Regions from separate parts of the Homo sapiens genome. Here region 1 is linked to region 2. A link means that fine-mapping ties the variant in region 2 to the expression of a gene that starts in the linked region. Tissue or cell type: left ventricle. Region 2 holds a variant in brackets; the other region holds the start of a gene. All regions are shown on one strand. Distances are between the middles of the regions.

The links. PIP is the estimated chance that this variant, and not a neighbour inherited with it, causes the effect.
Region 1: it holds the start of ESRRB, and the variant in region 2 is fine-mapped to the expression of ESRRB in left ventricle (GTEx, PIP above 0.99). The same link has a PIP of 0.9 or more in atrial appendage.

The regions. Positions count from the first base shown.
Region 1 is chr14:76,373,487-76,377,725 of GRCh38, forward strand. It overlaps ESRRB (estrogen related receptor beta), which reads left to right and starts at 2,651. Exons shown (of 7, transcript NM_001379180.1): 1 at 2,651-2,965. The coding sequence starts at 2,916.
Region 2 is chr14:76,309,418-76,313,656 of GRCh38, forward strand. LOC105370575 (a long non-coding RNA gene) reads right to left here and starts at 1,002. Exons shown (of 4, transcript XR_001750833.3): 1 at 408-1,002. It also overlaps a transcript of ESRRB not described here. RefSeq lists an enhancer at 405-1,018. The variant T/C (reference allele first, on the strand shown) is at 2,309.

The DNA of each region.
Region 1 (4,239 bases), 64 kb after region 2:
AGGAATCCATCCTCCGTGAGTTGGCTGAGGGCAGAATGGGAAAAATGTGGGCCCCATGCACAGTGTGGGACCTAGGCAAGTTTGTCTGGAGAATCACAGGAGGAGCCTGGGCCTGCCAAGTTGGATCATGCCACTAGGGTGTCCCGGCGGCTGGCCCTCATCTCTCCTCTTGCAGAGTCAGAAAGGAAATGAGAAAGAACTTGGCCCCAGGGCTGTGTGAGAGGAGGCTCAGGCAGAGGAAGGCTGAGAAGGCCTAGGTCTCTAGGAGTTCATTCCTGCCTGGAGGACAATCAGCTAGTGCCCAGAGATAAGGCTCTGGTTCACCTTCATGCCTGAACCTTAGAGGCAGAGAATAATAGTAGGCAAGCATTAGCCTAGTGTTCTAACCAATGCAGACCCCACTTTCTCCTCATTTGCTCCCAGTGGCTTTGAATCCATTGCTCTGGGCTGTGATGTGGTCTTTCTTTTCAGACCATGAAGAGGACCTTATTTCTACCAAGTGTGTCTTGTTTCCAGTTAAAAACGGTGCACCCACACAGAGTAAGGAGTCAAGGGGCCCCAGACAACCCATCACTGCCTCACCTTCTTCCTGGGCAGCGGCCTGTCACTCAGCAGGCTGTGGCACCCCACTCCAAACTCCTACAGGTTAACCATTCATTCAGCAAAATCTTCATCAAGCAACTGTTATGTATCAGGCAACTTTAGATGCTAGAGATTCTCTGGTGAACAAAAAGAGACATGGTCCCTACTCCCATGGAGCTTACAGTCTAGTGAGGGAAGGGTGGAGGAGGGAATTATCACTCATGCCAGTACACAGACAATTGCAAACTGTGATAAACTACCCAAAGCAAAGGAACCACAGAAGATTCTGGCACTATATGGAAGGTGGGGCCTTCTAGGTGGCAGATGTAAAGACTGGGGCCCAGAGGGAAAGCAGCAGGGGCTGTGGAGAGGAACAGAGGGACCTGCAGGAAGCTGTCATAGGATGCCTTCCTTGGAGGCCAAGGACTGGGGCCTTTTTCCTAATTGCAACAACGGGACATTGGATGTGCATTTTACAAATCGCTCCCTGGCTGCTGTGTGCCTGGAGAATGGATTTCAGCAGGGCAGAAAGGATGCCGAAAAACCAGTCACTGAGGTCCTGGTGAGAGATGATGGTCATATAGAAGCCAGGCTCAAGGGAAGCATCCCTGCACCCCTCTTTCTGTCTCTGATGAAGTACCTATGTGATTTTTAAAAATCGGGGGCTGCTGGGGGGCTACTGACAGAGGAGACATCTTCATCCATCTCTCTGTGAGATGCCTTCCTGAGCCTTGCGCCCAGAGAATCCCACTTGTTCCTCCACTTCAGCACATATGAAAAATCTCAGCTCTGTTTCCCAACCTGCACGAGCACATTTATCCAAGTCAAAAATCATCTGCGATCCTTCTGCCCACTCTCCCAGCCCCTGCCCAGGCGGCTGGCCCCTCCTGGGGTTTCTCACAACCCTCCCTGCCTTTATTCCTGAAGTGCTTGAACATTGCCTGCAGTTACACTCCATTTAGACATTATTTTGATGATAAAATTATGTCTTCCCCCCTACTGCTCATTGTCTTCTGCAGAATATAGGAGAATAAGGTGGTGGTGTCTCCTGAGGGCTTTTCCCCCCTTTTAAATAATTCTATACCTACCCCCCTCCCCACACTCATTTGAATCATCAAATTGATTATTATCCCTGTGGCTGGTGCATCTCAAAAGATGAAAAACCCAGAAGCAGGGCTGGGGCATGACTTACAGCTCATTTTGGTACAGTGGCATCCCATAATATTCGGGTTCACTGAGGGAGCAGCGGACGGGGATGCAGGTGCGTTTGTAGCTGGGGATTCAGGTGTGTATTTCAAAGTGTGTACTTGTGCCTTGGAGTGGATGTGGCGGGTAAGTTGATCATTTTCACCACGATTGTATTTTCCTAAGCAGACAGGAATTTATTTGCTCATGTCTGTGTCCTGGGTACATTTCAGAGAGCTGCCAATGACTAGAGCATCACTTCATACATTGAGAGAACGTTTTATAGATGCGCACCCTGCATCTAGCCATATGAGAGTGGTGCAGAACTGACTGGCCCAGGTGATGAGAACTGGGAAGGGAATCTGTTTCTCTCCTGCCTTCTTGCTGTGCCTCACCTGCTGGCCTGACCCTTTGCACTTTTGCGCACACAGCGCAGGGTTTGAGGCTGCCTCTTCTCTTTGGTGCGTGGGTGGAGAAATGTGACTCATTTTTAATTTGGAAAACAGATCCATTCCAGAAAGGCTGAGAGGTGAGTTTGCTAGACCTGCCAGTTAAAAGATGGGATAGGGGTGGCCCGGGGGGTATGTAAGCAATAAATCTCCCCCCACCCCAGACCCACCTGGCGGTTGGACATTCCCCCCCACCCCCCTTTAACTGCGAGAAGGCAGGCCTTAGGGCTCTAACACCCAGTACTCCTACTGCTCAGGAGGTGGGGACCTCGCGCGCTGAGCGTCTCATTCCATGAAGTCTCTCTGTCTCACCCCCTCCCCCCACCCCAGCTTGATTCTGTCACTTTAAGTCCAGCCCCTGAGAGATAGCCAATAGGAGCCAAACTATACATCAGTCTCCCAGCCTTAAAGCTACAGTAGGGTTAGTGGGCTCCAAGTCTCTTGTGCCCCAGCCTCCTCCACGGCTTCGCATCCCCTCTGCCCGCTCTCTCCGGAGCGTGCGGATGAGTGGAGAGCTGGGCTGTGCGCGCACGGCTCTCTGCCTCCCTCTCCCCCGCCGCGGCCGCCTCCTCCCACTCTGCGTTCTCGCGCTCACTGTGCCCTGCCCGGGCTCGCACCTTGCCCGTGCCCTTCACTCGCTCTTCCGCGTGATTTCCCCGCCGTCTTTCTCTACCAACTGGGAATGCTAAAACGGGACTGATGGACGTGTCCGAACTCTGCATCCCGGACCCCCTCGGCTACCACAACCAGTAGGTGCCCTGCTTCTCGGTCTGTCTGTCCTTCTGCCCGTCTGGCAGTCTCTGTCCTGGGGATCGCAGTTCCTTTTCTGCACATTCTTGTGTAAAAGTGGAAGGGACTTCGGGGGGGCACTTGGGGGACGAAGGAGGGGAAAAGCCGCACACTTCTGGGTTTCTTTCTAGGGCATAAACCCTCCTCTAACTTTTTCCCGCACCCCCTTTTACAAATCCACACTTTCAGGCAAGAGTGGCGCTTTCTCATGCACTTTCTCCCTTTCTCTCTCCTCTCTGATCTTGCTCCGGGGTGAGAAAATATTTGAGTTTTTGTGGAATGGAGCAAGAAGGGAGGCAGAAGCCCAGAACAGGTGCAGGGATGTGGTTGCAAGGATGTCCTGTCCCGTCAGAGAAAGCCTTTCCCGCGGGCGCTTTGTTTTATTATTTCCATCCTGGGGACCAAAAATGATCCCGGCAAGAGAGAGAAAATCGAACGTGCCGCGGCGGTTTGGAAACTGCAGGCGGCCAGTGCCGCTCTCGCCTCGCGGTCTCCGTGGGGCGCCCCGAGGGTGCGCACGTGGCGCGGCGGATCCAGGGCGCCCGGGGGATGCGGGCCCAGCGCTGCGTCGTAGGCAAAGTTCGTTCTCGGCTTTGGGGGAGGCTGTGACCAGCGGAACAGAAGGGCACCATTTCCCTGCTCCGAGGCGGCTTTGCGCTCGCGGTGCCAGAACCTGGGGTTATCCGAGCGGCGTGGGCGCGGGCGGCAGCCGGCGCCGCGAGAAGCGACTCTCAGAAACCGCGGGTCTCCAGCCCCGGGGCAGCGCGCCAAGAGCGCAGAGTGGGAAAGTGAACTGATCGCCTAAGCAGCGGGTGGTCAACCCGCGTGTCATGTCCGGGCTCTCGGGGATCCCACTCTATCCACCTACGGTTTCCCTCCCGACACCCTCCACGGTCGCCGCTCCACCTGCTCGGGTACCTGCCCGGGTCTCCCCTTGGGCGCTGCGCACCCCACGGCGCCCCCGGCGGGTGTCCCGGAGGCAGGTTGTGTGCGCGTGCAAAGTGGTCCCTCGGAAGGCTTAATAATAATAATACATAAAACTCTAGGTTCTTACGGACAGCTTTCCTGCTTAACTTTGTGCTCGTCTTCCTCTTTTTTTTCTGACGCAAACTAAATTCTCCAAGTCAGCGTTTCTCCAGTTCCACCGTGCTTTCATTTGTGTACCACTCGCTCTCCCCCTCCCCCCAAGAACCACGACTACATCTCTAAAATAAATACTCTGGATCATGTGGGG
Region 2 (4,239 bases):
ACCTTCTTGGAGCTCATATTGCAATGGCAGGCTACTGGTGGAAAGATTGGAGGCCCTACACGTTTAATAGGTTTTTGACTTCAACAGCTTAGATACCACCCCATCCTCATAGTTTCTGATAACCTGGAGAGTAAAGGATTAGATCTAACATGAAGAGGAGGTTCAACTTCATTTCTTTTAAAAATTGGGGATCAGGAAGTTTTAGGGATTATGAAGTACCTGTCCCTTATCCATACCAGCAAGGGGTTCATCCTATGACCCCTCTTGAAGGGGAAACTCACCTGAAATTCTGCCTCATTTAGCATGCACAAGAAATCCAGAAAATCAAGACAGGTGACCCTGTGTAGTCAAAGCAAGTGGGTCTCCAGATGGCAGATGGGAAGCCCCCTGGGGTAATGCATGCTCACCTGGTTAATTGTTGAACAGCCCATACTTGTGCCGTTTCACCATGATTCTTCCAACTTCCAGAAACAGCCCCTTGGCTCAGCTTTCAGAGCTGGACTGGCCTATCCCAGAGAGGCGGCCCCAACTTTGTAGAAACTGGGACAGGCAGTGCTTCTTAGAGACCCTCCGGTACCCCAAAGAGCGGGGCTTGTTCTCCAAAAAGGAAATCTTTTCAGACGACTTGACGTCCTAAATCTTTCTGGAGAAAGCAGAGACATTAACACCCCCAGGGCCTTTCAACTTCAGGCCGTTCTTCTGTTGGGAACGCCATCTCTTGGCCTCTTCAAAGACCTGGCCTCACCAGGCAACTGCACTTCCTCTCTCACCCTCCAGGAGCCTTCTGCATGGCCCCCAAGAAGCCTGCCTGGCCCCTGAGCTGGGAAAGCTGAATTCCCTCCCTGCCTCCTAATTTGGCAGGAGGAATGGAAACTTTCGTGGAAAGCACTTGAGCTGACGAATGCTCCCAAGTCAGGACTTTGACTCGGGCCCTGACAGGGCCACGGGCTCAGGATCCGGAGGGGGGCGGCTCTCCTTCTCCAGGTCAGGACCTCCTGCCCTGGCTCCTCCCCTTGCTTTCTGCCGACCATCAGTCACCAGCTCCCCTGTGACCCCAAGTGACGGCCGCACACCACTAGAGAAGTCATTGTCTTACACATCCCCCCTTTTCACTTGCCCTCCCCCAGTTCCTCCTCCCCTTCATGGTGTATTTTTCTTCCACACTTTCCTGCGTCCATCAGTGGCTGTGGAGTCTGCATGGGGCTGGGTGGAGTTGGAAGTCTAGAGCTTTTTGCTGTTTTGTTTAAGACCTGGTTATGGTTGTGAGACTTTTTTTTTTTTTTTTTTTTTTTTGTCAGCTGCCTGTTATATCAATCACGGAGTCGGGATCTATTTATAGGTTGGGAGTACTGTGTCCTTAGTCACAAAGAGACACAGACAGGGGACTGTCAGCTGGTACCGGAGGAGCGGAGCAACGAGTTATCAGCAACTGAAAGCACCTGAGGGGCCGCACATTCCACCCCAGCCCAGTCCTCGTCCTCCACGCCAGCCCCAAGCATGTGAGTAACCCAACTTCTCCCTTTCTCCTCCCCAGACTCTGCGGGTCCTTTTCTGTCCCCTTTCTCTCTCTCTCTCTCTCTCTCTCTCTCTCTCTCTCTCTCTCAATGGATAAAAATATCTCCCCATGCCTGTTCTTTCATCCTGGTTTTCCGCACTCTAAAGCATCCCTGTGTGGCCGAGAGGAAAACGTTGCCTTTCTTAGACTGTCACAGGAAGGTCAGAGGGTCTCTGGATGGCTAGGTGGGACGGTGACACAAACTCATTTGGAAGCAGTGAGTTCCCTTTGATTTTTGTTTGTTTTCACTGAGAAAAAAGTAAGTACATCAGAAGGGCAAGGGAAAGTTTACATGCAGCTCAGCAGGGTAGCGATGTCGCCCAGCGTGAAAACTTTTATTTGCTGGCAGCTCCGGTGTAGGGCAAGCTGGGGAAGGTTACCCAAGAAGACCCAGTGCCCACAGGACAGGTAATGATGGGAGCTCCTGGAAGTTTTGGTTTCAACCTGGGAGCTTCCAGGTTCAGGGAGACTCCCCACAGTCCCGATGACCAGTTTTCTATAGCACCTTAAAGTAAATGATTTTCCCTCTCCCCTCCGCGGAGCAAGTTTGCTTTGAGAAGTCACGATGAGAGCTGAGGATTTGTCCTGCCTTACAGGCTGTCATTGGCTCCCTCATTTGGTGTATTTTCTTAATCCTGAAAGGGAACTTGGCTGGGGACTGGGAGGAAGAGTCCCAGGCCAAAGCCAGGTGTGGAGGGAGGGCTGTTGACTGCTTTGCTCTGCATCCTTCGCAAAGGAAGAAACTTAATATCG[T/C]GAGGCTTGTCAAAGCTGTGCTTGTTTCAGACAATTCGAATAGTGTGCCGGCTCTGAGTGCACCTCGGGCGGCTCTAGATGGGGCCTTCCCGGCCACAGTCCTGTGTCCACGGGGCTTACCTGCCACGAGCTTCCCGTGCAACGTTTGGGACTTTAGTTTCTGGATATTGAATAGTATTCACCCGAAATCCTGTACTTGGGAAGATTTGCTTTATAGAATTTACAAAGGAAAAGTAGCCCTACATTTTGAAAAAAAAAAAAAAAAAAGTAATGATGCCTAATTTATACTTAAGTACAACTTTTTAAATGTACCTTTTTTTTTTTTTAACCATGAGTTTCTATTTATCCAATGGATACCATATGCTATATGACTGAGGACTCCTTGATTTGTTTGGGAGAACAATATCCTACAAAGAAACAATCTTTCCAACAATTTAAAAGCATTAAACAAAGCAGATATGCCTGTATTATTTTTGATTGATTACAAACAAAAATAGTTTTACCAGCATGAAACCAGTTAGTTTCATCTAACTCGATGAAAGTTAAATAAATATGGATATACACACGTATGTTTAGAGAAGCAATTTGATATCATTTTTATTTTGACTGTTCTGAAACTTTAACTTTCCTTTTTCTGGTTCCATGTTTTCAGCTGTATTTTGTTTAGGGTTATTAATATCTTTAATCCATTCATTCATTATTTTGGACGGGAGAGTGGGGATCAGGAAGCAATGAGAAATTAGAAGGCAAACGTCCCATGTTCAGCCAGTAAGACCGCATTCAGTAGTGGAGAAATTCAGAACAAGGAGTATGGCGTACAAGGGGGTAAATGTCACTATTTAAGATCTAGTATAGACGGTGAAGTCTAAGAACTCCAGAGGGGGACAAACGCCAACTAGGAGTTAAAGTGTCTTATACATATAGCATTATTATTCTTCCTATTATGAGGGCCTCTATTTTGGTAAATATGTCCTGCTAAGGTTTTTTCACCATAATGCTGAAGTGGGATTTGGTGGATTATTGTTAATTAAAGCTCAAGTGAATGAAGTGATTGAGACATTGCATTCAGAAATCAGAGAAGATTGCTATTGGCAAAGCTGAACTTCTAGGACTTTCAGATCTCAATGGCTTTTGAGAAAAAATGTGGCTTTTAAAAATGCCTTTTAGTACAAGAACAAATTCTACCTCCCCTCCCCAACCTGCACACTGGAGCCTGCCTGGCCCACTGTGCAGGCCCAGTGTGTCAGGATTAAATGCAGTGGGAGAGAGTCCCGCATTCCTGAGCAAGTCCTGTGTTCTCAGAGCCTTAATGGTCAGACAGAAGAATATTTTGTTGGGACATTTAGCTAAAAACTGCCTCTTCCCTGGGCTACGTGTAGATCCTTTCAGGTGAGATAGGGGCTTGTCTGACCGTGTGATAGAGGGCCTGGCTTTCATCCTCAAGTTCAGGGTGTGGTTTGGCCCATCGGGCTTAGTTATAGAGATGCAGTTCAGGGAAACTTCAGTGTATTTGCATGAGACAGCCTCTGATTACTTAGTTTCTGCTTCAATAACTATTAATTTTATGTGGTTTGAGCTCCCATCAAATTCATTTTTTTTTTCAAACTGATTTCTTAAATGCAATTGGTCACGGGGCTGTCTGTGACTTCATGTCTGCAAAATCTAACCATTCCATCCTTGTCATTGTTTATTTCTCTGAATGTAAATGAGCAGTTTCCTGTGTGCATGCACTGTTGTTTTATGGGTTCCCCCCACCGCCCTCGAACACATAGGAATCCAGTCCTGACCTCCTCCCAAATTGGGGACAGTGGGGGCAATGAGCAGGTGCTTTGGAATGCAGCAGGCTCAGGTGCAGGAAGAGGGAATCACAAATACCTGGAAAGTGCTCCCCTAATTCAAACGATTTTACATAGTTGAGGCCTCTCCAAATA